Homo sapiens: one gene and its partner. The protein of the gene in region 1 purifies or fractionates together with the protein of each later gene. This does not show direct contact. Each region holds a gene or a part of one and is shown on either strand. Other genes may lie near its edges.

Region 1 (3,652 bases):
CACCTAAGTTTTGTATTTTGGTAGAGACGGGGTTTCACCATGTTGGTCAAGCTGGTCTTGAACTCCTGACCTCAAGTGATCCGCCCGCCTCGCCCTCCCAAAGTACTGGGATTACAGGTGTGAGCCACTGCGCCTGGCCTATGCATTGTATTAATTTAGCATATTCCAAAAATAATTTAAGACAGGCAAATGATAAATGTGGATGTTTCTGGTGGTGCATCACATTGTAGGTGATTTCATTTTAGTAGTTGTACCTGCATAGGGCTAAAAATTAACCCTCTCAAAGCTCTGAGAGTGCCGGAGGGCCTGAAAGAGTGCCTGGTACTTCAAAGGTTCCCAGGGATAAGAAAAATGAATGAGACAGTGCTTGCTCTCAAGAATTTCTCATCCATTTGGAAGACAACGTACATTTTATAACAGTATAATTATAAGGGCAGGCTAAATAGGATATGGTCACCTGGGCTGGGAGATGGAAAAGGAATGAGGGGGTTTGAGGAGGAAGAGGATGCTCAAGTTGAGTCTTAAATGATTAATTCCTTCTATTCATAAGGGCAGGATGGATAAACGTGATCAGGTTCTAGGCCCTGCTCTGCTTCTATCAAGCGGTGAGATATTGAGCAAACTGCTTAATACTTCTGGTATCCATTTTCCTTATTCAGGATTCGACTACATATATAAAGCAGTGCTGTACATGAGAAATATGTGAGCCAAAAATGGGAGTCACATAGGTAGGAGATTTTACATTATTTTTTTCCCCTAAATCTTTTAAATCTGGTGTATGTTACACTTGGTACATCTCAATTTGGAACAGCCACATTTCAGGCACTTAATAGCTCCATGTAACTAGTAACTGCCATATTGGACAGTATAGATCTAGAGGCTGGGTGCATTAATGCATGCCCATAGTCCAGTGCTTTGGAGGATCGAGGCAGGAGGATCTCTCTTTTTTTTTTTTTTCTTTGAGACGGAGTCTCGCTCTGTCGCCAAGGCTGGAGTGCAGTGGCGTGATCTCCGCTCACTGCAAGCTCCGCCTCCCAGGTTCACACCAGTCTCCTGCCTCAGCCTCCCGAGTAGCTGGGACTACAGGCGCCCGCCACCACGCCCAGCTAATTTTTTATATTATTTTAGTAGAGACAGGGTTTCACGGTGTTAGCCAGGATGGTCTCAATCTCCTGACCTTGTGATCTGCCCGCCTCGGCCTCCCAAAGTGCTGGGATTACAGGCGTGAGCCACTGTACCCTGCCAGCAGGAGGATCTCTTGAGCCTAGGAGTTTGAGGCTGCAGTGAGCTATGATCACCACTGCACTCCAGCTTGGGTAACAGAGTGAGACACTGTCTCAAAAAACAACCACCACCACAAAAAAGATCTAGAGGCTATTCTGTCTTGGTTCTCTGCTTGAAAAAGGAAAAGGGACTCCAATGAGAAAATTATCACTGGTAATTTATAATTTGTAATCATTTTGATGGTACTCATATATGATGTTCTTTTGATGAGAATTATGGTCATACTTGCAAATATTGCTGTAAGTATCTTTCAGGTTGTTCATAGGATTATGGTTGGGATGAGAAGAAATGTCTTTGTTTTCTCTGCATCTGTAGTGGAGTCATATTTTTGTTATCTTTATTTTGTTCATTTATGTATACTTTGTATCCTTTTTTTCTACAGTATGTTATTTCTTTTTTTCTTTCTTCTTTTTTTTTTCTAATAGAGATGGTGTCTCACTATGTTGACCAGGCTGGTCTTGAACTCCTGGCCTCAAGCGATCCTCCCATCTTGGCCTCCCAAACTGCTGGGATTACAGGCATGAGCCACTGCACTCGGCCTGCAGTCTGTTTTTCTAATGTAATGGATTTAAAACACAATGAGAGTGCATATGGACATTTTAGAAAGTTAAAAGGAGAATTTATACAATTTTAAACTAATTCTTGGATTTCTTAAAATTTTAAACTTAGCTATTTGGGTACAAAAACAAATGGGATTTATAAATCCTCTTTTAATAGATTTGAAGGCAGTTATTGTTGGCTTAGCAACAAGTATTTATCTTTTAACCTTGAGACTGCATTAAGATAGTGTATAATTAACATGCTTACTGTTAAACATAAGGCTTTCTGTTAGTATTACAGTATAACAGTTACATTATTGATATGACTGATGTGCAATGTTGGTGCACTTAATTTGCTGTGCACTGAGCTTGGTTAAAAAACACTAGTGGCTAATTTTAGACAAGATAGCTATGACTGACAATAATACATCTTTACACTTGGATTGACTGATGGTTATAGCTTAGCTAACACTGTTTTCCCTCCAAGACCTTATTACCTGTGAGGTAAATACAGCAAGTATTCTGATTTTGCTGAGGCCCAAAGATGTTGTGACTTACTTAGCATAATAAATTAGAAGCATTGCTTGAATTCAGGTCTTAACAATGCTAGGCCCAGTGTTCTGTTCTTTTTTTTTTTTGAGGGAGGTTCTCTCTGTGTCGCTCAGGCTGGAGTGCAGTGGCTCCATCTCAGCCTACTGCAACCTCTGCCTCCCACACTTGGGTGATTCTCCCACCTTAGCCACCCAAGTAGCTGGGACTACAAGCACGTGCCATCACGCCTGGCTAATTTTTGTGTTTTTTGTAGAGGAGGGGTTTTGCCACATTGTCCAGGCTGGTCTTGAACCCCTGGGCCCACCTTGGCCTCCTAAAGCGCTGAGATTACAGGCATAAGCCACCACGTCCACCCCAGTATTCTTTTCTTTTCTTCCTTCTTTCTTTTTTTTTTTTTTTTCTGGAGATGAAGTCTCACTCTTGTCGCCCAGGCTGGAGTACAATGGCGCAATCTCAGCTCACTGCAACCTCCGCCTCCTGGGTTCAAGTGATTCTCTTGCCTCAGCCTCCCGAGTAGCTGGGATTACAGGTGCATGCCACCATGCCCGGATAATTTTTGTATTTTTGGTAGAGATGGGGTTTCACCATTTTGGCCAGGCTGGTCTTGAACTCCTGACCTAAGGCGATCTGCCCGCCTCTGCCTCCCAAAGTGCTGGGATTACAGGTGTGGGCCACCGCCCCGGGCCCCAGTATTCTTTTCATTGAATCTCTTCATATGGCATTTGAGTGTTTAGATACATAGTACAAACCAGATTTTTGGAGTGTATAAAGAAATAGTTACTTCCTGCCTTTGGGAAGTTTATATTCCAACTAGGAGAGACCAACTAACTACAATCCATGTAGCAAAAAGTACTTCAGTTATTTAAAAAAATTTGTTACGGGAAAGAAAAGATGTAAGGGATAATATAGTCAAATGGAAAATAGATAAGAGTTAATTAGACAAGATTTTTGAGTAAAGAGTTTAGATTGTAAATCCTTACTATAGGAAGAAGAAGATGATGAGGTGTTAAGGATAGTGTTATTTCAATGCACAGAGAACAACTTAAGGGAAAACTTAGCTAAGGGAACATAAAACGTAGGTTTAGGGAAAGCTTTTCTTTTTTTTTTTCTTTTTTCTTTTTTTTTTTTTTTTTTGAGACGGAGTCACGTTCTTTCACCAGGCTGTAGTGCAGTGGTGCGATCTTGGCTCACTGCAACCTCTGCCTCCCAGGCTCAAGTGATTCTCCTGCCTCAGCTTCTCAAGTAGCTGGGATTACAGGCACACGTCACCACGCCCG
Region 2 (3,652 bases), on another chromosome or scaffold:
GCCCATGTTATGATTTCCCAGCTAGGGCCCTGTGTGAGTCAGAGTCATCCTGGGTGTGTTGCAACAAACTCGTTTCAAGTGGCCTTCCTTGGCCACTTGAAAGCAGGTGGGTGGAAGCTTTGGTGGCCCAGAGGCAATAGGAGGAAGGGCAGTTGCCATGTGGTGTAGACAGGTTCTGTGGGAAGGGCAGAAGCTAGAGATGTTCATAAACAGTGGGCCAGAAGAATCCTGGGAAACTCACTTGGGAGTGTTAGACTTTACAAGTTTTAGAAAGTTCTACAAGTTTTCAGGCTTCACCAGTTTACTGAGTGTCCCCTTCTAAGTTTGTCCAAATGCCTCAGCTGTCGTTACTTGAGTGATCCCACAGCCCCCCTACTAGATGCATACTCTGAGAGGAAATAGTGTGCAAAGAATATCTGGGAGTGAGACTGGCTTGGTCCCTTAATGGCCAGGTGAGACCTGTGAGCTGAGGAAGACTAGCCAGGTGGACTGGGTGGGGAGGCAGTAAGAGATGCAGGGAAGAGATCAGCCCAGGCAGAGGAAGCAGCTTGTGCAACATTCTGAACAGAGGAAGAGTGTAATTTTGCCTAATGACCACTGAATAGTCATTGTTAGTAGTTCTGCAGGTCATAATGGCACTGTTTCTGGAATCCCTATGTAAATACTCAGGCTACTAGAAATGGTGTCAATTAAGCCCCATGTTGGGTTGCAGATGTAGCATTCTCCATCCTTTGTGTGGAGTTCACGACCTGGTATCTCATTTCTGTGAATACCCACGGTGCTTGTGCCACCTCCTCTTTTGAAGTAAGCCCTGGCAATGCCTTGTGCTGGTTTCCCATTGTTGCCTGGCATCACTTGGCAGAGAAAGAAAGTAGCAGCTAATTCCTTTTTGTCTTGGTAGACACCTTGGCTTGTGCCCTGGAAGCCTTGCTCCTCTCAAAAACATCTCGCCGGGCACTTTGGGAGGCCGGGGCAGGCAGATCATTTGAGGCCAGGAGTTCGAGACCAGCCTGGCCAACATGGCAAAACCTCGTCTCTACTAAAAATATAAAAATTAGCCGGGCGTGGTGGCAGCGTGCCTGTAATTCCAGCTACTCAGGACGCCGAGGCATGAGAATCGCTTGAGCCCAGGAGGCAGAGGTTGCAGTGAGTGGAGATCGCGCCATTGTACTCCACCTTGGGTGACAGAACAAAATTCCTTCTCAAAAAAAAACAAAACGAAACATCTGATCAGAAGCTCCATTCTCACTTTCTTTCCTTCCTACAAAATTTTCTGCTTGGAAAGTATGCCTATAAATCAGGAAATTGATAACAACAATTAATGTGTTAGAAAAGTGAACATTTTAAATATAGCTCCATTGATGGAGCCTAGCTTCTGGGTAGGTGTTTCTATATCTTGAGCATACCACTTACCTCTTTGTTTTTGTTCTTAGAAATTACGACTTTGCATGGAGAAAGTTGACCAGAAAGCTCCAGAATACATCAGGATGGCAGCATCATTAAAGTAAGCTATTCATCTATGTTTTTCTAATCCAGTGGTGACTGTTTTCTGGCATTTTAGGTCAATTCTCCAGTAGCCAAAAATGAAAATCTTAACTTCAACCGTGCTTTTTTTCTGAGACCAGCTGAAGTTGGTTTTTTTCCACTTTTGGCTATTATGAAGAGAATCATCTTCATGTCTGTCTTTTAGTGGGGTACAGGCTACCATCACATGAGCTTGTAGAAAGACAGCCACATTCAGTTGACCTTGGCTATTCTGACTGAGCAGGTTTGGGAAGGGCCTCAGACAATAGGTACTGCTGCTGAGTGCAGCATCTGGACAGAGCAGAGGAAGGGCAGTGGGTCTCATGCTCATGTCTGGGTAGATGCCACTTGAGTGTCACATTGAGGTGTCAGGGCTTAAAGCAGGCATGACCATTAGAGCAGGGGCTGGCAGACTGCAGCCCGTGGGCCAAATGTATCCTGACATCTGCTTTTTTTTTTTTTTTTTCCGAGACGGAGTCTCACTCTGTTGCCAGGCTGGAGTGCAGTGGCGTGATCTCGGCTCACTGTGACCTCCACCTCCCAGGTTCAAGCAATTCTCCTGCCTCAGCCTCCCAAGTAGCTGGGACTACAGGCACGCACCACCACGCTCAGCTAATTTTTTTATATTTTTAGTAGAGACGGGGTTTCACCATGTTGGCCAGGATGGTCTTGATCTCTTGACCTCGTGATCCACCCGCCTTGGCTTCCCAAAGTGCTGGGATTACAGGCGTGAGCCACCGTGTCTGGCCAACATCTGCTTCTTTTTTAAAATTGAGATGTAGTTCACACACCCTAACCTTTACCCTTTTAAAGTGTACAGTTTGGTGGTTTTTAGCGTATTCACAAAATTAGCGAACATTACCACTGTCTTCATTGTAAACATTTTTATCACCCCAGTAGGAAACCCCATACCCATTAGCAGCCACTGCCCTTTCCCCATCTCCCTGGACACCACTAATCTATTTCCTGTCTCTATGGATTTGTCTGCTTTTGACATGTCATATAAATAGAATCATAAATATAAAATCTCTCTTGTCTGGCTTCTTTCACACAGTGTACTGTTTTTCAGATTCATCCATGTTGTTGCATGTATCAGTACTTCATTCCATCTGTATGAATGCATTGCATGGATACTTGTCACATTTTGTTTATCCATCAGTTGATGAACATTTGGGTTTTTTCCACTTTTGGCTGTTATAAATAATGCTTCTGTAATATTTGAGTACAAGTTTTTATGTTTTTTGTGTAGACATGTTTTCATTTCTCTCGGGTAGGTACCTAGGAGTGGAATTGCTGGGTTTTATGGTAACTATATATTACCATAGAGTAACATTCCATAGAGGAATTGCTAAATCGTTTTGTGGAATGACTGCACTATTTTGCATTCCCACCAGCAGTGTATGAGGGTTTCACTTTCTTTATAGCCTTACCAACACTAGTTATTGCCACCTGTTTGCATAAAGTTTTATTGGAACACAGCCATGCCCATGTTTGATTACTGTTTGTGGCTGCTTTTGCACCACCATGACAGAGTTGAATAGCAGCAACAGAGACTGTGTGGCCTGCAAAGCTGAAAACATTTATGATTCGGCTCCTTATGGAAAAAATTTGCTGATCCCTGCTTAAGATCGTTGCTTTTTCTGAAGCTTAGTGTTTGTAACCTAGAAGTTAAAGTGCTAACTACTAGAGTCAGATCCCAGCAGTGTTTTCCCAACCTGTAGGAAAAGAATTAATTATGGTATCTAGTGTTATTAATTTCAGAGTTTTCTGTCTTTGTCTTAAACCTGTGTTGCCTATCTGCCACATTTAAAGCGATGCATGTAGTAGTAGATGTGCCTTTTTTAAAAACAAAACCATGTGTATATATATATTTAAAACAAAACCATGTATATATATATATATATATATATATATATATATATATATATATATGTATTTTTTTTTTTTTTTTTGAGACCGAGTTTTGCTCTGTCGCCTAGGCTGGAATGCAGTGGTGCGACCTTAGCCCACTGCAACCTCCGCCTCCCAGTTCAAGCAATTCTTCTGCCTCAGCCTCCTGAGTAGCTGGGATTACAGGCACCCACCACGATGCCTGGCTAATTTTTGTATTTTCAGTAGAGATGGGGTT

Evidence for each region. The genes of interacting proteins can lie anywhere in the genome.
Region 2: the proteins of PIK3C2A (region 1) and RBSN fractionate together in Homo sapiens (co-fractionation; one large-scale study listed by BioGRID). This does not show direct contact.

The regions. Positions count from the first base shown.
Region 1 is NC_000011.10:17,201,383-17,205,034, reverse strand, and holds part of PIK3C2A (phosphatidylinositol 4-phosphate 3-kinase C2 domain-containing subunit alpha), read left to right. Parts: intron 1-659; exon of another isoform or gene 660-728; intron 729-3,652.
Region 2 is NC_000003.12:15,078,584-15,082,235, reverse strand, and holds part of RBSN (rabenosyn-5), read left to right. Parts: intron 1-1,433; coding exon 1,434-1,504; intron 1,505-3,652. UniProt on the Homo sapiens protein: Rab4/Rab5 effector protein acting in early endocytic membrane fusion and membrane trafficking of recycling endosomes. Required for endosome fusion either homotypically or with clathrin coated vesicles.